Linked DNA regions of Homo sapiens: all the other regions are reported to be linked to region 2. The links are microRNA targets in miRTarBase. Many come from high-throughput screens and were not tested one by one. Region 2 holds a microRNA gene; each other region holds the end of a gene's coding sequence. Distances are between the middles of the regions.

Region 1 (8,264 bases), 12 Mb from region 2:
CATGAAACCTAAATTTGTAGAAGATAAGTGGTTTAACCAAGGTTTACAAGCGGTAAATTCACTTACAGTTTGCAAGTGGTAAACTCAACTTTTAAATTTTGGTTTGCCTGAAGCCATGGCTGCTATTCTTGCCACTATAACCAAAACAGTGTAGCCTAGAGCAGATCACTTTGATGCCCTAGTGCCCTTGCTTGTCCCTTGAAAATTCACCTCATGGGCACTTTACATTGTTGATATACAGCCTAAAAGAAAGCATCCCAGACAAGGAATTAACAAACTTTAGTTCTGTTTCTAAATCAAGTCACCTTGACCTATTCATGTAATCAACTGCTTCTTCCACAGGTAAATGGAAATAATAATCCTTGCCCACTTTCTCCCTTCTGTCATCCCCTCTACTAATACTACCTTAGATGAAATACATTAAGCTTCATAGAGCTGGGAATATTATAAAACTTTGCAAATGCATGGCTTACCACAAATTCGGTCTTGTGATTACCGGTAATGTGAAGTCCTTTGGTATGATTTTCTTCCTTTTAACCTTACCCCTCGATAACTTTACCCAACAAATGGCATTAGTTCCCCACCCCTATCTGTTGGCACTTACTGCTAGGTACACACTGCTGCTCCTACTCAAAGTGCCTGTGATTTAGAAAAAGGGCTTTCTTTGGCCTCAGAGTACATGCAGCTTGAGTACAAGGAAGACAAAGTGGGGTGTAAGGGTTGGTGGACCACCTCTTGTACTCTACAATGAATCCCAGAGGTCCTCTGAGTATTGAGTTCCAACTTCCCAAGACAGTAATCTGCTCATTAATGCACACTGATTTGGCTTCCTTGCCTTTTCTTTTTTGTTTGTTTGTTTTTTTGGGTTTTTTTTTTTTTTAGACGGAGTCTCACTCTGATGCCCAGGCTGGAGTGCAGTGGCGCTATCTTGGCTCACTGCAACCTCCTCCTCCCGGGTTCAAGCGATTCCTCTGCCTCAGCCTCCTGAGTAGCTGGGACTACAGGCTGCACACCACCACACCCGGCTAATTTTTTGTATTTTAGTAGAGACGGGGTTTCACTGTGTTGGTCAAGATGGTCTCGATCTCCTGACCTCGTGATCTGCCCACCTCGGCCTCCCTAAGTGCTGGGATTACAGGCGTAATCCCTGTAGAATATAGAAAATATCTCACTTTTGGCTCTTCTAGCTGTACATCTAGAGATTGCCTCCTAAATAGACTACTATACACAAGTCCTAGTCTCAGCATCCACTTCTAGAAAAACCCCAAATTGTGAGACAATCTAGGGTAAGTAGTAGCTTCACCAGGTAGTTTGTGTAAGGGAACTGAGTGACAATTCCCCCCACTCTGTCTTTCTTTTCCTCAGATAGTGTGTTATACGGCCCATCTTGCCTCCTTTACTGAAAGCTCTGAAAATTTCACCTTGCCCAACTCAAAAATTATCTTATATATCCTGTAACTTTCTTCCGTCCTACTTTTCCTCCATTTCAAAATTTTCAGATTATCTTAGGAAAATCTCCAAGTTCTTCATTTTATTTTTGAGCCTCCAATATTTTCTAACTCATGTCTGAAAATGCAAGAGCACCTAGAGACAGAAAGTCCTATTTTCTAAGTGTTATTGAACATAATGAAAATAACCACTTCAAACTTCCAAAGCATTGAAAAGTGTCCCTAAGGTCCCCTCTCAGAATCACTATAAATGTCTTCTTTTTCCTCCTTAACTTCATATAAACCCAATTTTCTTTAAGTAGCACCTTTCAGGATGTAATGGACTGAATGTGTCGTTCCAAAATATGTTGAAGGCCTAACCCCCAATGTGGCTGTATTTTAAGTAAAGAAGTAATTAAGATTAAACGAAATCATAAGGGTTGGGCCCTGATCTGATAAGATTGGTTTCCTTACAAGAAGAGACACCAGATCTCTTGTGGTCTCTCTCTCTCTCCCTCTTTTCACCCTGTGAGGACAAAGCAAGAAGGCAGCTATATGCAAGCCAAGAAAAGAGCCCTCAACAGAATTCAAACCTGCAGACCTTAATCTGAGACTTCTCATCTCCAGATCTATGAGAAAATAAATTTCTGTGGCTTAAGACACCCCATTTATGGTATTTTGTTTTGGCAACTGCGCAGACTAAGACACAGGATAAATGTAAATTGATTTCTCTTATAATCGTCTAATTTTTCTTCCTTTTTTGTTTGCTAGTGGGGTATCAGGATGTTTTAAAACTAGTTTTCACTATAAAGAGTATTGCAGTAATATCAAATACGTAATAGTTCTCTCTGGATTATAATTAAACAAAGTAGCATGAATACCATCATTTCCAAAACAATTTTAAATCTTAGAGGATGACAACACCCTCACAACCTTTTTCTTCCCCTTTGTAATAGTGACAGATACTGCAAAATTGGACAGGAGCAAGAAGCTTGTACTCTAAATATGCGAGCTATCCACAGGATGACTTAACCTTAAACTACAGAGTTTCACTGTGCTCTGGTGTAAAAAGCATCAAGAAGTGATCAAACACTATTTTTGTGTATTAGTTTTTCATGACGATATACAATATACGTTCTGTACCAACACTGAGTTTATTTGTTCAATGTAAACAAAAAAGAGAATTTATTTGCTCACATAATTTCCTAGTCTATGGTTAAGATGCTGCTATGGTAGAACTGAGTGGCTCAAAAAAAGAAAACACAGCCTCTCCATTACTTGGTTCTACGTTCCACTGTGCTGGCCTCTTTCTCAGACAGCCTCCCCCAAGTGATGATAAAAATATTTATCAGCAGCAATGGGTTTTTATTATCCGCACAACTAGAATTCCAACGAATGGGAATGTTCTTTCTGAATAAATCTAGTAAAGGTCATTGGCTTTGCTGAGGTCACATGTCTATCCCTGATCCAATCACCTTCCTTCAGAAGAACAAAGTACTTTTATTGGTCAGACCTGGGACTGTACCTATTTCTGAGGCTGAGGTTAAAGTCAGCCTTGCCTAAACACATGGACCAAGAATGGGAGATGCAGTTCTTTGTGGAGAAACTAGACTGTGGGGAAAAACAGCTCAGAAATTCACTCCCCTTTCATTTCACGTCCCATCCTCAATTATATCCAATAATATTATTCAACATAGCATATCAAAGTCCAAAAACATTAAAATCCAAAATCAAATTCTCTAAGTTAAAGTTTAGAGAAAGTAAAGCCTTCTTTGATTCCTTGGTCTGTTCATTTTCAGCTTTAGGAGTTTTTCCAGTAACACCTGTGATCTGAGATATCTCTCGCTAGAATGGAGGTACTTATCCCAGGAAAAATGTTATTCCCATAATACAGTATTTATTGTGATTTAATGATATCCAAAATAGGAAGGGAAGATGGATGGCTCTCAACAGGGTGCCAGGAAGTTTATGCAATTGTCCGTAATCCATGGTCTATGAACCTAAACACAGTTAGGAGACTTCTCCCCACGGAAAATCAATTTAGGCACTATACGCTGACTATATCTAAGGTAGGGGAATGTCCTACATAAACTGTCTCCTTTCTTATAAATTTGAGACAACACTGCCTTCTGGCAAAGTTATAAATTTGCAACAAGTACAACCCAAGCACCAGCTTTTACCTGAGATTTCTTTCTTTTTTATCCTGTGGATCCCAAGAGATTTCCATTTCCCCACTGAGCTCTGTGTTCCCAGCACTTAATGTGCTGCACTGATGGTACCTAGTAACACAACCTCCACAATATTTTGGGGACAGGCAATCTCTTTTTCAGTGTCATATTTCAGTGGCTGCCACCACTGCCTTATTGAGGACGTGCTTATGCCTAAGACACTCGCCTCTAAAGGAAGCTGCTACTCTTTCTCACCTTGATTTCAGCTGCAAGATCTCCTTTTCCAGACTGCCAAACTGAAGGTGCTTTTGATGCTTCTCAGTGGTGCGCCCCTAGGGGCCCAGGAAGAGCAGTGCCACTGCCGCATGTTCCTCAGGACACCAGCATTCCTGGCTCTCTCCTCTGCCTTTGGGTTCTGTAAAGTTCTTGGACATGATCCCTCAGGATACTGACAATGCCTGCTTGCTTACCTTCTACATTACCTTGAAACTCAGAAACTCCAATATTTTCACTTTTGAACACACGAATTCAAGATTCATTGTCCTCTTCCCGCTTCTTACCAATATCCAGCTTTTAAAGTATTCACATCTCCTCCACAAAGCCCTTGTGCTTTCGGGAAACTTAGTCCTGCTTGTAACTTTGGAAATAATTCAGTTTGGTTTAAGCCAAGCTGCAGAATCCATTCCCCCAGCAAAAATTACTGGTATGTGACCTAGGCTAGACCAGTGAGGATGAATCCCAGAACTTTTGCTTGCAAATGCTCGATAAAAGCACTCTTGCTCCCCCTACTGGTTATGAAACAAGAAGCATGCGCTGGCAGCCATCCTACAACTCCAAGAAGAGTGTGTGATAGAACTTGGATGGAAAAATAATTGTTGTCTTTATCAAAGTATTACCTTGGAAGAGACTAAATTTACTTCAAAGAAAAACTGACCAAACTAATTGAGGGACTCCCCTTTGAGAATACAGTGCCAACTCTAGAGCATATTCCTTTCTATATGTTTATATTCACTGGTGGAAAATCCCTGTCCTGTGAGGGTGGGTTTTATTTTTTAAACATCCTAGAAGTTACTCAAAACCAAAAGTAAATAAGTACGTGATCAATTTTAGTAATGGCATTTCCAGGGTTTTTAAAAAGCAGAACTTTTTACTTGTGAGTAGTTTCCTTATTGCTAAAACACTGGTCCTGAAGTCAGTATCTCTTTTTGAGCAAATAAAACCACTTCCGTTCAATGTGGGAAGAAAGTGTTTTCACTTCTTAATTACATCTTAGTGAACTCTGGATTTTCTTTGACATTTAAAAATAGTTAAATTCTATTGAATCTCAAAATAGCTAATCCTTTTTAAAAAAGTTTTAGCACCTGTACATTTCTTTTTAAGGGCTAAAACTCCAAGTTTATTTTGTCAAATTGCCAAGGCAACCAAGAACATTGCCATATTAACACCTGCGTGTGACATCGTTGAGTGAAGACATTGCAAAGAGGATGTTTAAAAGTTGAATGTGTGTTCTGCATAGTCTGGCGCTCTCAGACAGCCAAACAGGATAGAGGCCAGATGGTTCCGTATCTGTGTGGCCTCCCACATATCTTACATGCATTTGGAGTTCCTATTTTATAGAATTAACTGTTGCCAATTCCTTGTAACTCTCACAACCCCCTTATTATCCATTCCAACAAAGGACATAGATATAATAAAGTTTGGCAAGAAACATTTAATCCATTTCAGCTCTCCCAAGTAGTACTATTCCTCTATCAATCTAAAGACATCAAATTTTGTCCTATTTTTAAAAATACCTCCAGTGAAGGAGTTTTCGCCAGTAACTTATCTCAGAATCAAGGATTCTAAGAGTCTGGTTTTTGTTATAACAAATAATCACACAATTATTTTTAAGACCACGGGAAGAAAGATATTGTACTGATCTTCTCAATATCCCTTTTGCAGAAAGATTAGTCCTTGTGAAGCTTACTTTTATAAAAAGTAAACTGTAGGACAGTAAACTGACAGGACATAAGAAAATCAGATTCTCTGATAACCTGACAAGCTTTTCTAAACATTTACTTATAATATTTTGAGATGAACAAATGATTAAGAGGAATTTTTCTTTGAGTCTTGGCTTTCCTAATTCTAGATAATAATCATTTGAGCTTTATTTATAGCATCTTTCTTCAGAGATGCTCTAAGAACAGCCATCTCATTTGTCTTCAGGAGGCAAATGTGAAATTGTGTTTCATTTTTTACTTTAGAAATGAATTTGTGGCTGGGCGCAGTGGCTCACGCCTGTAATCCCAACACTTTGGGAGGTCGAGGTGGGTGGATCACCTGAGGTCGGGAGTTTGAGACCAGCCTGACCAACGTGGAGAAACCCCATCTCTACTAAAAATAGAAAAATTAGCCTGGTGTGGTGGCGCATGCCTGTAATTCCAGCTACTCAGGAGGCTGAGGCAGGAGAATTGCTTGAACCCAGGAGGTGGAGGTTGCGGTCAGCCGAGATCGCGCCATTCCACTCCAACCTGGGCAACAAGAGCGAAACTCCATCTCAGAAAAAAAAAAAAAGGAAAAAGAAATGAATTTGTAAGGTTTCTAATGGAGAGCCAGGGTTTCTCCTCCTGTAAACAAAGTAATAAAAACAATTTTAAGAAGCTTTGTCATTTTTAAAAATGATTCAATCATCTAAGTCTAGAAAATAAAATGGTTATGGGACCAAACTAAAAAGAAAAAAAAGAAAAATTAGTGAAAAGGAGACCCTCCTTTTAATTTCTTCTGATTAAAAATTTTAAAGTGTGCATTGGATGGAAGGAAACGAGGTATGATATAATCTTAATTGTACATAGTGCCTAGTATATAACACGGGAAGCAGAAAGTTTATCTCCCAAACAAATATGACAATGAGTTATTGAAACCACAAGCCAGTTTATTTATCAATGATGTCAGTACTCAAAGTTGTCCAGTTAAAATCTACTTCCTCTTGAAAAACAAAAATACACTGAAGGAAGATGCAAAGAGCTAAAAGTGGTATCATGATTCCACAGCAGTGATTGTAAGACAGTGAGCCACAGGGAAATGGGAAAACGTGAAAAGAAACAAGTATCAGGACCAAATTAGAGAAGATATGAGTAGGGCCATCACTAGAGGTGAAAATGGAGAAACCTAAGAAAACCAGTGTTGGCATGAATTATGCAAGTGGAAAATACATCTGTAGAGGGACGAGATAGAAGGACCTAGATCTAACTCCAAGTGCTTGATTGGAGAAGAGAGGGAGAAAGAGAATTTATAGAATTAACTGTATAGAAGCCTAAAAAATAAGATTATCAGCCTAGTCATGTAAAGTCTAGAAGTTCCTTTATTTGCTCATCACCTTTCCTTTTTCTATAAGACTATTAAGCAGAAGGTCAGTAACAGAAAATTTACCCTTTCCTCTCCTCTCTTGGTTTAAATTTTATAAGGAATCTGAAGAGGCTATGGATCAGTTGGCATTACAGTGGGAAGAGCTTATTGAAGCAAGGTTGACAATAGGTCTTGTCATTCTGCTCCCTGAAAATGCCCTTCGACAACTGTGTCAGGCAGAAAGCACACACAAAGTGCTCAGGATGGAACTTGTACCCCATGGCACTGATACAACGGCCAGTGATGGGCTGCCCACACCCATGGCAGAGCGTTCCCCGGCGGTGATGGTAATGGAGCTCACAGAATGGACGTCCATCCAGTTCAAAGAAGGAGCCAGTAGAAAAACTGGTGAAGCAGTCCTGGGGTAGAGAGAAGAGAGAGAAAAAGAATGCAAATGTCAAGAGGTAAAATGTCAGCAAAGTAAAATTTTCAGCCTTGAAATTCCTGACAGTTACCTGCCAGCTACAGGAATTTCCCTCAGGTTCTTGACAAATGGAGACTAGATTTCCCGCTTGCAAAACAGACAAGCAAATGGATCTGTATCTCGTTTCTCCTTTAGGATGCGCACATCCATTCCTCATTCAGGACTGTGAACCCTTTCACTAACTGCAGCTCTTCCTCTCAGAGAGGAGAACCCTTGACTTTCCCTAAGTCCGAAAGAAAAGTGATTATACAGACCCCACAAACAAAGCACTCTGGGTGCCAGACAGTGTCCATGGCTGAAAGGTAGTTTTCCAACACTGGGCGATTGCAGCCACCACACTTGGGTGAGAACATGGCTAAGAAATCCTTTCGGCAATATGGCTTCTTGTCCTTCTCATGAAAGCCTGGAGAGATAAAATCAGGAATTCACTGTTGCAGGTTGAGCCCTGAAAGCTACACTGGAGACTGAGAGGAGGCCCTTTCAATCTCAGTGTCCTCATATTCAAAATAGGATGATTACTGTTACCTAATTCAAAGGGTAGTTGTAAGAAATAAATGAGATAATGCAGAGGAAGTGTTTTGGCATTGTGTCTGGTTCATAGTAAACATTTAATAAGTGTTAGGGGCTATTGCTCCTCAGTGCCTTTGTACTAAGTATTCCCTTGGCTTGGATAGTTCTGTCCCAGAGCCTGATATAGTTGTCCTCTTCATGTGATGCAAGAATCACTCAAATATCATCTTATCAGAGAGGCATCTCTTCAGTCCCTCCTTGTCACATCATCTTCTTTCACCGTCTTTATGGCATTTACCTTTATTTAAAATCATCTTTGTGGGCTGTCTCCCCTTACAGGAACATTAGCTC
Region 2 (8,264 bases):
AGGCCAAGGATCAGGCCAGGACTCCACCAACGGAGGACGAGAGGCAAGAGCCGCTGTTAACAGCAAACAGCTATGTCCACTGCTGGGGAGTACGGCATGCGCATGAGGGCTGAGGGGTGGGGCAGGACGGGCCAAAGCTGCCTGAGCCAGGGATGCCTTCACAACCTCGCTGCCCCAGCCAGAAAAGTCTGCCCAGGCCACCGGCTCGTGAATGTGGGGTCAGCTCAGCCATGTTCCCTCTTGAGAATCGACGCTATAGATTTGTATTCATTACCCACTGAATTCAGAGCCAGCCAGACATCCACGTCTCACCCCAATAAAAGCTTTAACATTTACCCAGCGGCACAGAGTCATTATTCTGTGACAATATTCCACTGCTGACCTTTATTGCCTAGGACTCTCTGTGAAGTTTCCAAGGAAGCATTTCAGCGTTCAGCACACAGGACCCAGGTCCACCGCCTCCACTGCTCCTGCACCGGCCGGCCCCCGCCTCCCGCCCATCCATCTCTGGGCTGTTTGCCTCTGTCTGGACTTCATGTACTGACAGTGTGTTTGCTACCACTTAATTCCATCACTGACTGTGCCTCCCTCTAAATTGATCAGTGTCAATTCTGGGCAAATAATTGGGTGGAATTACCAGCGGGTCCACCCGTGCTGATTATGCAAATAATGTACGCCGTCACCAAGGGCCCGGCGCTGGCAGTAAGTGTCTAAACTCCTTAGCATTTGACAGCATAATTGAAGACACAAATATGAAGCCTAATGAAGAGTTTCTTTTCTCGAGGAAGACTCCCTCGTTCTCACTTTCAATGGCTTGGCCCAGAGGGTGCAGGTGAAGAAGGTGGGTCGCATAGACACAGAGGCTGAGGGGGTCGGCATACGGACACCTGTCCACGGACATGGGGCGGTGTGATCTGCTCTTGGACAACCCCAGGGTCATAACCTGTGCCTGCTATGATAAGCCTGGTCAAGCTGGATAAACTCCCAGGCCTCGGTTTCTCCATGTGTAAAATGGAAATAATACTATAATAAACAATGACAACAGTCAAGAGTCCCTCTACCACCACTGCTACTAGCTGGGCACGAGGCTATTGACTATTATTTATCCCTGTGATACAGAGGAGGCAACTGTGGCACAGAGAGGTTAAGTAACTTGTCCAAAGTCACACAGCCTGTGAAGGGCAGAGTCAAGACACAAGCCAAGAAGGTGGGTTCCAGAGTCCAGGCTCAGCCTATGGACTGAGCTGGGCCATGTCCACATCTTACACAGTCAGCCTCACACCCCACGGGGGCAGCCCAGGGCCCCACCCACACAGGGAGCACAGTCACTGGAGCTGCCACGGCCAGTCCTAAGTCCCATCCGGGAAAGGGCTCTGGCACGGAAAGCCCTGTTTGGACACAACATGCGGCCTCCTCATCCTCACCCATTCTCTTCCACAAACCTGCCCAATTCTCACCCAGGGTGCCAAAGTCCAGAGGATGTTGGGGGAGGGCGTCCTGCAGTTAGAAGCCACATCCAGGTGGGCGCTGAGTGCTAGAGGCTGAACTGTGTCACCTGCAAAATTCATGTGACGCAGGCTTCACCCCCAGGATATCAGCATGTGTGCGACTGTATAGGGAGATGGGCTTTAAAGAGGCAACTAAATTAAAGTGAGGCCAGATGGGGCAGGTCCTAAATCCAATCCAACTGGCGTCCTTACAAGAAGAGATCAGGACACAGACATACAGAGGGATGACCCCATGAGGATACAGGGAGAAGGCAAAGTCTACAAGCCAAGGAGAGAGGTCTCCGGAGGAACCAGTCCAGAGACCCCTTGATCTCAGCCTTCCAGCCTCCAAAACGGTGAGACGATAAATGACTTGTGTAAGCCTCCCTGTCTGTGGTGCTTTATGACGGCAGCTGGAGCAAACTCATACACCATAGATCCCGACAATCTGTCCTAGAGGCCTCCAGACCAGCAGGTTTCAGAGGGAGGACAATGTATCGGTCCACAGGCCACAGAATGCTTGGGATGCACCGATCGGCACGTTATTAAACCCACTGGGACCAACAGAACTCCACACATCCCATACCAGAGTGATTAATGCTTCCAATCTCAGCCTGTGCTGTAGGAGGCTTTCATATTTCACGGCAAAGTTGTGCAGACCAGTTGGTTCATGGCAGGCTGTCTGTCCCACCTTGCTGCCTATGGCCTCTCCACCAAGCCAGGCTCGGGTATGGAGCTCCTGACCGTCCACAGCACTCTGTCTGCTCTGTGTCCTGGGCTAGAAACCTGATAACCAGCAGATACTTCCTTGGGTTGGGCACCCTGGGCTCGGTGACCACCGTGTCATCTTGGCATGTCCCCATCATCTCCTTGATTGTCCTCCCCCAGACAGGGGGCTCGACGGGGAGTCCATGGTGGTGTTGTTGGAAGATGGGATGAGAACTGACACTGTGGTCACTTACTGCCGCACTGGGTGCTCAGTCGCCGCTGGGTCAGTGCAGGGACCTCACCACCAATTATGTGAATGCCTCCCCTCTGCCTGAAGCTCCCCAGGCTCTGCCTTCTCACACACCCAGAAACCCTCACAAAAGTCCACAAGAGTGTCCCCCCAAATCCATGTCCACCCAGAACCTACGAATGGGGCCTTAACTGGAAATGGGTCATTGCCTCCTTGCAGATGTGATCAGTGAGGTTGCGACGAGGTAATACTGGATTAGGGAGGGTCCTAAATCCAATAATTAGTGTCCTTATAAAGAGAGTGTGGCCCAGGGCACTATGGAAGAGGTTTGAGGATGAGCACAGCAGCAGAATCTGAGTGCTGGAGGCTCACCCAGGCAGAGTGTGCTCCACTTCGTTCCAGGGGACTGAGAGAAATGAACCCGGGGTGAGACCCAGAGCCGTCCCCTCCTGCAGTCCATCTGGGCCAAAATGAGAGCCCAACCAGTGGGGAGGGAGGGGCAGATTCAGGAAATAGAAAAAGTGGAAGGGGCTGGTTCTGGACAGATGGGAAAAGGGCAGGTGAGCGCCAGGAAAGATCTAGGAAGGTTTTTGGGTTTTCAGTTCCTGGGCCATAACTGAGATGGGGTGCCCAGGAGGAAGGGCCAGCTGGCCAGGAAAGATGGGGTATGTTCACTGGAGCTCCTGTAACCACAGCCTGGGTGACTGAAACCACAGGGATGAATTGTCTCATGGTTCTGGAGGTTGGAAGTCTGAGGTCAAGGTGTTGGCAGTGGGGGGGTTCACACTGGGGACTGCAGGGAGACTCTGTTCCAGGCCTGTCTCTCCAGCTCCCAGTGGCCTGTAGGCAATCTTTGGCATTCCTTGACTGACAGAAGCATCACCCAGAGCTCTGCCTTCATCTTTGTGTGAGGTTTGCTCCGAGTGCATGGCTGTGGCCACATTTCATTCATTCATTCATTCATTTATTTATTTGAGATGGAGTCTTGCTGTGTCGCCCAGGCTGGAGTGCAGTGGCACGATCTCGGCTCACTGCAGCCTCCGCCCACACAGATTCAAGTGATTCTCCTGCCTCAGCCACCCAAGTAGCTGGGACTACAGGCACCCGCCACCACGCCCGGCTAATCTTTGTATTTTTAGTAGAGACGGGGTTTCACCATGTTGGCCAGGCTGGTCTCGAACTCCTGACTTCAGGTGATCCATCCGCCTCAGCCTCCCAAAGTGCTGGGATTATAAGCATGAGCCACTGCACCCGGTCCCATTTCCTCTTTTTATAAGAATATCAGTCCTACTGGATTAGGGCCCAATCTAATGACCTCATTTTCAGCTGATGACTTCTGTAAAGACCCTACCTCTAAACAAGGTCACACTCTGAGATCCTCAGGGTGATACTTCAACATATGCATTTGCAGGGACACACTTCAAAGGGGAGTCAGGGGTCTGGGCTCGCCTGGTGGCAGGCTCTGCAGGAGATGAGTCTGAGGGTCCAAGAGGAGGTCCAGGGAGCGCTCTGCAAGCCACCAGCCCCGAAGATCACTGGCACCATAGGAGCAGGGCAGGATGGGCGGGGGTGGGGAGCAGAGAGCAGAGCAAGGGCAACCACAGAACCTGGGGCCACACCACCTTCTGAGATGAGCCACATAGCCTGGCACTGAGCCTCCTTCACGTGCTGAGGCCACATCTGTGTGCCATGGAGCCTGTGAGCCCCTGGAGGGAGAGGCTGTGCCTGGGACCCTGCGGATTCCCCAACACATTTGCTGAACAAGCAGGGCAGGGAGAGAAAGGAAAGTGAGGTCGAGACAAATATTATAAATATGACCATATCCCTGATGGAGAAGAAAGTCAAGAAAGAGTTCATGTTGAAAGGCAACACGGGCCAGACACACCTGGTACTCAGGGGCCCTGCAGGGTTTTACAGCAAACTGTGGCCACATGGGGGCTGGGAGGGGACAGCCAGGAAAGAGGCACAGTCCCCATCTGAATTTGACTGAGAGACTCTTTGAAGCCGTCTGAGATTTCCATATACGATTTCTATTAATATTTAAGGCAAGACGCATCCCATCCTCCATAACAACACCGTCTTGAAAGAAGCCTTTGAACTACTTGAAAGGTAAACCCAGCATTATTCTTGGATTAAGAACTCTTGTTCATTCAACAAATACAGCCCCACGACGACATCCCTGAACACCAGAGCCAGAGGTGCCTTGGCATGTGCACGCTGCCTGCTTCTGCAGCAGTAGGATGATGCGTGTGTGGCCTGTTACGTCACACCGCCAGTGGGTCTGGGCAGTGTCCCATTGCCAATTGCGGGAGGAGTCCTTCAGGGCACGGATGAATAATCATGCTAAGTAGGATAAATAAAAACTATAAATAGCCTCAAATCAGTTCAGGTCAAGTACTACTGCCAACGAGCTACGGAGAAGGCATTCGCTTTTCAGATCTTTTTGCAGATCCACATTGAAGGTAGGGAACTCTGTCTTTACTCCTGAGAGCTCGTGTTGGAAGGTACTCATGAGTGAAGACAGAGTTCCCTACCTTCAAGTTTACAGAGGAGACGGGGTGCACAGTGGAAAGGAGGGGAAAAAAACCCCACACGCATGAAGAGGAAAGACAAGTAGGATGCAGGCTTGGAGGTGGAGGCTCGGCGGGACGGGGAGAAAAAAGGACAAGACCCTTCCCTAGAAGCGCTTGGTGGACACAGTGGGTGCAAACGACCAAGTGGCTGGATGGAGGGAAGAGAGACCCTCAGATGGAGGGAATAGGGGGCCCCCATACAGAGGGGCCCCCCACAGACCAGAGTCAGGGGCACACAGGTCCGTGAGCTACGTGGAATGAGAGATGGGTCCCTGGACCACATTACTTCCGGCTCCCTGGTGTATCTCCTCCACGTTCTGGCCACCTGCGGGTCCCTGTTTTCCTCCACACTGACCACTTGAAAACTGATGGGTGGCAATTTTCACCCCTCATTGTCCTAAGGGTCGTGGGGGCTGCTTTGCTTGGTGCTGGAGTCTGGGGCCACAGTGGAACATGGCATTGATTGCTAAGAGGAAGGGACCCCACGATGCCCTGTAGAGCCCAGCTCCTCGGGGCAGGAGGAGCACATATCCACTGTCTGCCCTCTCCCCACACTCATGACCTCCACCTCCCCCAGCCCCAAACATTACAAAAGCTAAAGACATCCTGGGCACCTGTGAGAAAGGAAGAGCGGAGGTAGTTCCCACGTCCATCCTGGTGCCTCTGCCTCCCGGGTGGCGACCCTCAGGAAGGTGAAACCTGCAGCTTGGGCCCTGCAGTTTATAGAATGATATGTTTGTGGTTCCCTAAAACAAAGAGCCGTTGCCACAGCAACCGTGGCATCCCAGCACTCAGAGGCTATTCTCAGACACTAAACAATGAGTTTTGCCTTTCAAATGCATTTGATACAATTTGCTTGGAAGGCATTAACATCCTCTGACAAAACCCATGAGGAAGAGGAGGGCAGGTGAGAGCTGACAAGGTCGAGACTTGCAGGGCTTCCAGGAATCACACCCATTCATGAGACAGGAGGGCCCAACGGCCCCAGACACTTTCAATAGGCAAACAGGAAATGGGAAACAGCAGAGGGGAGGCAGGCAGGATCCCTAACCTTCCAACAGCAGTTCCGTGGAGGAGGAGGGGCTGCCCAGAGGTGAGGCAGTTGGGATCCCTAACCTTCTAGCAGTGGTCCCATGAAGGAGGAGCGGCTGCCACACACCCTTTCGGGGCTTCTTCAGGAGAGACGTTCCACAGTCCCATCTGGGGCAGTTCTCTTCTTCAGGGTCACTGCAAAGATGGCAGCACAGGCCAGAGCCCGCAGCAACCACTTAATCCACCCTGCTCACTCTGCAAAGGACATTGAGTGCGTCCCCTGCTCACAGCCAGCCATTGCTTCCTCCATTTACCATTTTTTTTTTTTTTGCCAGTTCATGAACAACTTTGCTATTGTTTACAACGATCTCATGGGATTAGAATACCAAACAGTGATGCCAGTGAGAAGACCAAATAACCTTCATTCCTAGCACCAGCCTCCTGTCACTAGCACGCTGGGCAAGCTGCCCTCAAAAACAGCTCCCGGGCGTCAGTGACAGGAACACGTGTCATCAGGAAAAAGGCATGATGTAGGCAGGCTGGGGGCAGCATCCCAATGCAAAGTACATTTTTGAACAGACTAAAGAACATGTGAACAGTACACAGAAATTCCTCCATCTAGCCATCTATCCATCTACCTATAGATCCATCCATTCATCCATCCATCCATCTTATCTATCAATCCATCTATCTAATCTATCCTATCTATCCATATCCATCTATCCATATCTATCTAATCTATCTACCTACCTACCTAATCTGTCCATCCATCCATCCATATCTATATACTCCATCTATCTATCCATTCACCCATCCAGCTATCCCTCTAATCTAATCTAATCCAATCTAATCTAATCTAATCTATCTAATCTATCTAATCTATTTATATGTAATCTATCTATCTATCCATGATTTATCTATCTATCTAATCTATCTATTGAGACAGGGTCTCTGTTACACACACTGGAGTGCACTGGCCCAGCCGTAGCTCACTGTAGCCTACAACTCCTGAACTCAAGCAACCCTCCTGCCTCAGCCTCCTGAGAAGCTGGAACTACAGGCACATGCCCTTCCTCTGTATGGCAAAATTATTTTCATTAACAGTCATGTAATAACCATCATTTTATTGATTTGTGCATCAGTTTTAAAACCAAATATTTTGAAAGAATGAATGTCAATTTTAAAGGTATTATCCAAATCCAATAAAATAGTTCATGTAAGCATTGAAATCTGCATATCTGCATTTACTAAAAAAAAAAAAAAAAAAAAAAAATTCCACCTTGTAGTTCACATCCACTGCCGTTTCAAATTTTAAACACAGATGAAAACTCCGAGTGGCTACCTAGAATGACAGCACTGAAGGAACACGAGTTCACTTTGTCTTTATAGTTACTGTGCCCTCATGTCTGTTTCAAATCTACCGTGTAATAGCAGGAATGGTGATCACAGGGCATGGAGACCAGGCCATTCCGGACCCTGCAGACTTCACTCCAGTCAAAAGGCTGTAGCTAAGCCCACTCATGCCTGAGAACCACATGTAACTATAACAGGCTTCCCCAAGTTAATGTTCATACAGAATATGGTATTCACTAAAGGATACATTATAAAAAGATGCTAATTTGAAGTTCACAGATACATTTCAACAGCAACTGTAGCAATTGCTTAGATCTTAGACCAACGATTGGGGGAAGGAGTATTTTATCATTGGCAATTTTTAGAACGGGGGGACATGGTGATCATTAAAAGGGAAGGGACATTTAGCTGGCTTTATTGTTATTTGGAATTCTCTCCAGATGAAGCAATAGAAGTGCCCTCCTGTTGCGTGTACCTGGGGCAGACAGCGTCACTCACTCCGCCCCCAGTAGAGCTCTGCTTTCGGAACATGATGATAAAGCATTAATATTGCATGTTTGGTGAAACCCCGTCTCTACTAAAAATACAAAAAAAAAATTAGCCAGGCGTGGTGGCAGGCGCCTGTAGTCCCAGCTACTCAGGAGGCTGAGGCAGGAGAAAGGCGTGAACCCGGGAGTGGAGGTTGCAGTGAGCCGAGATTGCGCCACTGCACTCCAGCCTGGGAGACAGAGTGAGACTCCGTCTCAAACAACAACAACAACAACAACAACAACAACAACAACAAATATTGCATGTCTGGGAGCTGGGCATGGTGACTCACGCCTGCAATCCCAACACTTTGGGAGGCCAAGGCAAGTGGAT
Region 3 (8,252 bases), not on the chromosome of region 2:
TTTCACTTGTTCAAAGAAGAAACAGACGGCAGGTCCTTTAACTTTCAACAGGCCCCATCTTCTTGACCTCTGTCTGGATCTAGCCCCTGGGAAGTAGATGACGGAGGGAGACTAATTCATTCAGCATCAAGTAACTATTTTGTGCCAAGTACTGTTCTTAATCCTTGACTTTATACCTACCCTGCTTCCTGTCACGGGCTTTGCAGCCCTTGCCTTTGCCACAAACAACTTACCAAGTGCCCCCAACTCTTCCAGAATCAACATTTCTAAGGTAAAAATGCATTTGCCTTTGTTTTTCACAAAATGCATTTTCAGGTGTTAGTGTTTTGGGGCAGTTATAATGGATCACCTGGTGGGGGTCTAGTATCTATGCACATTAACCTTCTTACGGAAATTGAATGTCCATTTTCCTGGAACTTACCTGAATACAAACACCCATACAGCACGTGAAAATCACTGTTCCCAGAGGCATAAACACCGTACTGCAAAGGACAGAGTATAACCACCTGCACATTAAGTCTTCACAGAATATAAATTTTCTAAGCCTTACAGCAAAGGAAACAGCCTAAGTGTGGAGTTCCAGATGTGGGCAGGAAACAGCAGAGTTTTATGCTGCTATAGACCAGGGGTGTCCAATCTTTTGTCTTCCCACATTAGAATCGTCTTGGGCTACACATTAAATACATTAACAGTAATGACAGCTGATGAGCTAAAAAAAAAAAATCACAAAAAAAATCTCACAATGTTTTAAGAAAGTTTATGAATTTGTGTTGGGCTGCATTCAAAGCCCTCCTGGGCCACAGGCTGCGAGTTAGACAAGCTTGCTATAGACCCTCATGTGTGTTGGTAGGCAGTAAGGGGCAGGAATTGTTCTTGGAAATGATCCAAAGTAGCCGTAAGACAAGAAATATTAACACATCGTGTTTCCAGCCTTTTCTTTTTCCCACTGCCCCATAAAGATTTTAGCTCTACCTACTCCGTTTTTTGCCTCCCCCATCCTTAGGAAAATACTGCAGAATAAAGAGAAAAAGGGAAGAAGGCTCAGGGATCGGCTATCAGTGCTTTTTAAGGAGGCAAGGGCAGGAGAAATAAATATTTACTTAAGCATGTTCATTATAAGGTTATTTACGAAAGTGAAAAAATGCAAACAACCTAGATGTCCCATCATAGATTTTTAAAAAATATATCTATCCTGAAGAATATTATGCAGACATAAATCGATGTTCACAGTATACTTATGAAAAAGCATGGGTCATAAAACAGTATGTACTTAAAATTCCATTTTCTTGAGGGAAATTTTTGCATGTGTCTGTAAGCCTATTTATGCAAGAACCTATCTTTGGAACAGTAGACAGGGAAGTTATAATAGTGATTATCTCTGGGTGGTAGGGTTAGAGATGCTTTTATTTTTCCTTGATTTACCTGGCTCATGTATTAACTGTAAAGTTAACAGGCAGCAACCTTTGTTTTCCTCTGTTTTTTTTTTGTTTGTTTGAGACAGTCTCACTCTTGTAGCCCAGGCTGGAGTGCAATGGCGTGATCTCGGCTCACTGCAACCTCTGCCTCCCGGGTTCAAGTGATTATCCTGCCCCGAGTAACTAACTGGGATTACAGGCACCCGCCACCATCCCCGGCTTTGTATTTTTAGTAGAAACGGGGTTTCACCATGTTGGCCACGCTGGTCTCGAACTCCTGACCTCAGGTGATCCACACCCTTCACACCCCCCCCCAACCCTTGGCCTCCCAAAGTGCTGGGATTACAGGTGTGAGCCACCGCACCTGGCCTGTCTTCTTTAAGCATGTGGAATATTTGGGCTGACTTCCTCTAGTGTTCTCCCACTCCTCCTCTCCACACTTGCAGATGAAGAAACTGACCCATCTATTCAGGCCTACCATCTTAGAGATTACCGGCTGTTTCACCTCTTCTAGTATCCAGTGGTATGAAGCAGTTAAACCAGGGATCTTGTAACTAACTGTTCCACCAAAGACAACTGGGATAAAACTCAGCCTCTCAGGGCTCTGAGATCTTGTTGCTCAATGTTGGTGCTATTATAGCCTCATCTTGCTGAGTTAACATTTATACTAAATTGCCTGAAATCAAATAGCAGAGATCTTATCTTTACTTTATTGCAATGACCTTCTTAGTTGACCCTTAATTTCAGCCCAGGTCCTCATGGTCCAACTAAAATCACATCAAATAAGTGAAACTGGATTTTCCTTTAGATTTTGTGGAAGCTGTCCTACCTAGAGAGCTCGAAGTGTATCTGCTTCTTCCATAGTATAGTTAAGGTGTGAGGCATAAAGCGGTATATTAAATGGCATTTCCGTTCACTCAGTTGGTATTTATGAGCACCTACTACCTAGATGGTGAAGAAATGTGTTAGCCTGGCTGCCTGCTTCCCATTAACTGAGGTCACAGGTGATGCGGCTGGTCATCTCTATCGCCGTAGAAAAGGCATGTGCCTAGTAAGCAAACACAATGATGTCCACAGGCACTGCCATCAACGAGCTTCTAATCTGTACAGGGCTAAACAAGTATATAAAGTCATTCTTATACAAGGCATGATTTAAGTACCATAAAAGAAGTATAAAAACAACACACAAACTGACATTTTTATTTCTCTGGCAACAGATGTACTACTCCAGTGGAGAGACCAACAGGGACATTGTGAAGGCAGTGGCAGCTGACCAGGACCCTTTGTAGGTTGTGATTTTATATTTCAAGATTAGTCAAACTTCTCCCAGATGCCTAGTATTTTGCAGATTACTTTGAAGGGGTCTTGCAGATAAAGCTGAGAGAAGAGAGAAAGAGATCCCCCCCCGTATTGTTCTATATTGTTTTATGCTCAGTACCTGTTTTAAGAAACAAGGAAGCAAAACCAAAGGCAGGCAGCCGGGTGCCAGGCACCAGACCCAAAACCAGGCCTGGGCCTGCCTGACCTTAGCCTGATAGTTAAAATTCAACCCATGACCTAGCAACCGATGTTATCCGTAGATTCCAGACATTGTATGGAAGGACATTGTGAAACTTCTCGTTCTGTTGTTTCACTCTGATTACCGGTGCATGCAGCCCCTGTCACATACCCCCTAGATTGCTCAATCGATCACGGCCCTGTCATGTAAAATCTTTAGTGTTGTGAGCCCTTAAAAGGGACAGAAATTGTGCACTCAACAAACTCGGATTTTAAGACACTAGACTGTCGATGCTTCCAACTGATTAAAAGCTACTTCCTTCACTATCTTGGTGTCTGTGGGGTTTTGTCCACGGCTCATCCTGCTACAAGGCTACTAATCTTCACGCAGCACATCCCCACATTTAAAACTTCAGTTAGGGTGGTCCTCATATTGACTCTAAGTGCCTCCTAATACAAATCTGTTTCCCTTTTCAGTCCCTAGAAGAAACATAATAGAGTGGGTCCAGTCCGTATTTCAGGCATGCCTACCACTTCAAAGCCTCTAGAAAATTCCATGCTTACATCAAATTTTTATTGAGCACCAAAAAGGCACAAGATACACAAGAGCAGATGAAATGGGTGCTGACATTAAGAGACCTAAATCTTTGAGGGAAATAAAATCAGTAAAAATAATCACAGAATAATATGTGAAAGGCCTTAAATGTGGTATCAAACACCAAGGGGCCAAAGAAGGTTTCAGTATCAGGGACTCGTGGAAGATTCCCAAAAGAGAACGGAGTGGCCACATGGAGGGACATATTCCAAGCAGAAAGAACAGTATCGGATGAAAAGAATGGGGCATATGGAGTGATAAACTAGTCTAGGTACTGGACTAATTAGGAAAAAACATGAAATCCAGCCTACAAAAAGACTTTGTTTCTCATTAAATTTCATAATATAAGAAGAATGAAATTTAGCTGTATTTATTAAAAATGTCCTTTTAAAAAGCTTAGAAAATGTTATCTGTCAAATTTTAGGGATTTTCTTCTATTGCTATTTTGAGAAGGTATCTTAATGTTAAGATGTTCAGATTTCTATTAAGAACAAATGACCTCATCCCGCTTCACATTCTACCTCCCAGAGACACATTTTTACAGGCTACCAATTAGTTTATTCTCTGAAAAAGGAATAGAGATTAAGTCCTTAAAATTAGTATTAATTGAATATAAGTGTAAAATCACCAAATTTCCTATTTTTAACTTTCTAAGACAGTAATAAAGTTTTAAAGTACATTATTCCTGGCTGGGTGTGGTGGCTCACGTCTGTAATCCCAGCACTTTGGGAAGCTGAGGCGGGCAGATCACCTGAGATGAGGAGTTTGAGACTCGCCTGGCCAACATGGCGAAACCCAGTCTCTACAAAAATATAAAAATTAGCCGGGTGTGGTGGCACACACCCATAATCCCAGCTACCAGGGAGGCTGAGGCACAAGAATCACTTGAACCCAGGAGGCAGAGGTTGCGGTGAGCAGAGATCCCACCACTGCATTCCAGCCTGTCCAACAAAGCAAGACTCTGTCTCAAAATAAATAAGTACATTATTCCTGATTATAACTATTTCCTCAATTCTAAGATTTTTTTTTTTTTTGCATTTCAGTATTTCTGAAATCAGATGATCTAAAAATTAATTAATGAAGTATTATTTCTCTTCTCCCCCTGAAAAGCTATGATAAAATCAATGATGTATTTTATAATTGATGGTATCTTAACATTAAGGCAATATAGTGATGAGAATAACTGTTGGCCTTCAGAACTCAATTTTTCAGTAGTCATAGTCCCTCAGGTGTCTTAGTTTCAGAGGAGATTTCAATAGATTTTATCATGGAATGGTGAACACCATAAAGTCAGGCAATGTCCCTATCCTTGCTTGAATCAGAGAGGGGAACTCTCACAACGGTTTTACAAACTTCATATCTCACCCAGTCACCTCCAAATGTGCCCCTCCTATCATAGCCCTCCATGTAACAAAAGGGAGAAGAGCTTTCTGATGCTTATGAAGTCCAGGGGTATAACTCATCTTTTGACATCAACTGATGTACACCACTGCCACACTGATCTGGGCCACACTTGAGCATTCTACACCAGGCATCAGTCCTAACTTACCTGGAATTTAAATACCAGATAGAGTGCAGTTCCTCCACCCTTACTTACAGGGCTCTGCCTAACCCCAAACAAAGATGCCTTCAAATCTGCTCTACAGCAGTTGTTTGGAAACAAGAGAAAAGTCATTATGCAAATATAAGTCATTCAAAACAATTCAGTCTTAAGGAGACAATAACTAGCACAGAAACGGGGAGATGAACTGTTTGTTCTGGGAGTTCAAATTACTGCCTTCAATGCTTTGTTATCAGGCCAAAAGGTAATTACCATTAGACCCAGTAACAATCTTCATTGTTAACCTAACACACCAATGACAGAGGAGAACTGAGAGCCAAGCACTTGGGTCTCATTTAATTTAATCACAAAACAAACCTCAGGTATAGCTGTTATTCTCCCCATTATAATAATGATAATAATGAAGAAACCGGGGCTTTTAGAGAGTGACCTGGCCAAGATCATACAGCCAGGAAATATTAAGGGTAGGAATGAGGAGTTTAGTTTGGGCGTTTAATTACCAAACTATCCTGGCTTCTGCTACGAACTACTTTTACAAAGACAGAATCTTACTGCATAGGTTAAACGACACTGGAATGACAGAGCAAGTCGTAGTTCTAAACATCTCACTCATTCAACAAGCATTTAAGTGATTCTAGACCGTCAGAGGACAACTGCAAAAAGTACTTGAAGAATAAATATTTAATAATAATGTAATTATAATTATAATCTGTATATCTAAACAGTGCCTTTGTAAAAACCCTTTCCATCATCTTCAAATTCAGTCTAAAAATAATTGTACGCTATACTTTTCAAGTGGGGTTTAAACTATTGTTTCATATTTAACATAAAATATTTTCCTATTTAAATTAACATACTTTTATGTTCACGGTAAACAAACTGCATAGGTTTTCACTTTCATTTTCTTCTGACATCTTCTGCAAAAGAATGGTCTGCCCATTTTTTGGATAAAAAGGCTAGAATAATGTGACCGGAGCTGGGTGAGGTGGCTCATGCCTGTAATCCCAGCACTTTGGGAGGCCAAGGCAGGCAAATCACTTGAGGCCAGGAGTTCGAGACCAGCCTGGCCAACATGGTGAAACCCCGTCTCTACTAAAAATACAAAAATTAGCCAGTCGTGGTGGCATGTGCCTATAATTCCAGCTACTCAGGAGGCTAAGGCAGGAGAATTGCTTGAACCCGGGAGGCAGAGGTTGCAGTGAGCTGAGGTTGTGCCATTGCACTCTAGCCTGGGAGACAGAGCAAGACTCCATCTCAAAAAAAATGAAAACATAAAAATAGAACAATGTGACTGGGAGAGACTTAAAGTGAGGAAAAATGAATGCTGAAAGAACTAGTAAACTGGCTGAAGATGGAACAACTCCCCATGTCTCCAGAGAGGCAGATAAGGGACTGTAAACCAGCAAATGCCACCTGCCTGTTATCTAGCTCAGAAAGGTGCACACCTCTGGAAGCAGCTGAATTTAAGTCCAGTGTGGCACTTTCAGAAAATGGCATCAAAGGTTGGACCATAAATCTTTCTTATTCTCCAGTCACTGGACATTTAAGAGCCAAGATATTGATGGGCTCTTTCCCTCCTTTTCTTTCTCCTTGTAGCAGATGTATGATTCATGGATTGTCCTTTCGTGGTCTCCATTTTCATCTTATTACTTTTTCTTTGCTTCTGCTTTCTGACAGCTCTGGAAAACAAGGTGCTAAATTATTTCACAGAATGAGCACAGTGAATTATGTAATTATGTTGAAGTTTAATTAACTAGCTAACCAAATAAGAAAATAGAAGAAGGGAAAGAATCTACTGTATTGCAAGCATAAATCCTCAGTCTCCTAACCATAACAACAAGGGAAGAGTCAGAGGCCTAACCAAGCAAAATGTTTGAGAAAAAAAAATTCTTTAAAAGATGGTTACTATGGATTTAGAACAAGCTGTCCGGGGCAAACACACCACAGAGGTAAATGCAAAGCTAGTGAGATTGGACTTTTTAAAAAAGTTTTTTGTACATCTGTATTGCTCAACTCAGCACTTCAATCTCCAAATCCTTGAATTCCGTTTTTTTTGGAGAGGAGCTGATACATGGGGCAGTCAGCAGAGACAGAAAAATGAAACAGCACAATGGAAAAAACCGAGAAGCCTTGAAAGGGCCTGTTTCCTAAGTCGTACAGATTTTCCTTTCCTCAGCGGATCTAAAAGTCCTGACAAGTGCCACGCAGGGTTATCAGCATTTTGTGGTCCTTATCTTGAAGATTAGCTTCAAAATAAACAAGCTGGAACTCACCCTCTGAAAACACTGAACCACACCAGACAAAACAGATTCTTTGTTTCTGGTGTTCTCCACACTAAGTTACAGGCGACCTGCAGCTGAGAAAATGACTGGCCCATCCATTCACTTCTCCAAGCTAGCAGAATCATGCCATGACACTCAACATATTGAGAACCAAGGAAGGGGCCAGAGCTACAACAATGCCAAACCAGGACTCCTCCCCTGATTACCCAGCAATATCAATTGTTAGGTTCACCTCTCATAAGCTTCTCCATAGGAAAAGCTTATTCTTGATCTTGTCAGGAATAAACCTGGGAAAAGAGCTTCATAAACAATGTATCCCCTAATGGGTTCAATTTATGCCTCACTTTTTGTTTACTCAGCATATGTTACCTGTTGAGAAAACAAAAATGAATGGGCATAATCTTTGACTTCAAGGAGCTGGGAGACAGAGATAAGGGGGATAGTCACCCCCTCTCTATCCCTACTTTTTTAGGTGAAAATGCTATGAAATCAATGAACACCCCATGAGGAACTTGCAGAACCAGCTTGATTCCAGGATCTGTGCTCTACTATATACTCTACTTTAAATTATTTATATATGCAAACTGCTAACCATATAATAATCACTCAATAAGTATTAGCTATTATTAGTTCCACATGACTATTATGCAGAATTTTGCTTGACAACTTTAAATTTTTTCATATTTAGATTTTGCACTATGGACTAGGGATACCTTATCAGTTCAAAATAGAACAGTCTACAGAAGGAGTAGGATTGAAAACTAAAACCAAAAAAGTCATCTTTACAGTATTATACTGATTCATGCATACTATATAAATCTATTTCCCCACTTTTTTAAAGTAGGATAATTTCTTGATAAGTGATGATTTAGCAAACTTAATGAAATATAGTATAATCTCTA

Evidence for each region. The annotated mature microRNA hsa-miR-3664-3p reads UCUCAGGAGUAAAGACAGAGUU and lies in region 2 at 4,914-4,935, opposite strand. An mRNA with a match to its seed (bases 2 to 7 or 8) in the 3' UTR can be bound and repressed. Matches are read on the target gene's strand: a 7mer-m8 pairs with bases 2 to 8, a 7mer-A1 pairs with bases 2 to 7 and ends in A, and an 8mer does both.
Region 1: miRTarBase lists LPXN as a target of hsa-miR-3664-3p. The part of its 3' UTR that is shown has no 7-base or 8-base seed match.
Region 3: the mRNA of ZCCHC4 is a reported target of hsa-miR-3664-3p. Seed matches in the 3' UTR shown: 7mer-m8 at 6,215-6,221.

The regions. Positions count from the first base shown.
Region 1 is chr11:58,520,386-58,528,649 of GRCh38, forward strand. LPXN (leupaxin) reads right to left here. Exons shown (of 9, transcript NM_004811.3): 8 at 7,658-7,806; 9 at 6,486-7,338. The coding sequence ends at 7,069. Among named protein-coding and RNA genes, the nearest start is that of OR5B21, 16 kb to the left of the region's middle. RefSeq lists a silencer at 4,211-4,505.
Region 2 is chr11:70,867,376-70,875,639 of GRCh38, forward strand. It overlaps MIR3664 (microRNA 3664), which reads right to left and starts at 4,993; the gene lies at 4,895-4,993. The region is part of intron 11 of SHANK2 (SH3 and multiple ankyrin repeat domains 2); the gene reads right to left.
Region 3 is chr4:25,367,524-25,375,775 of GRCh38, reverse strand. It overlaps ZCCHC4 (zinc finger CCHC-type containing 4), which reads right to left. Exons shown (of 13, transcript NM_024936.3): 13 at 5,393-6,747. The coding sequence ends at 6,612. Among named protein-coding and RNA genes, the nearest start is that of ANAPC4, 5.6 kb to the left of the region's middle.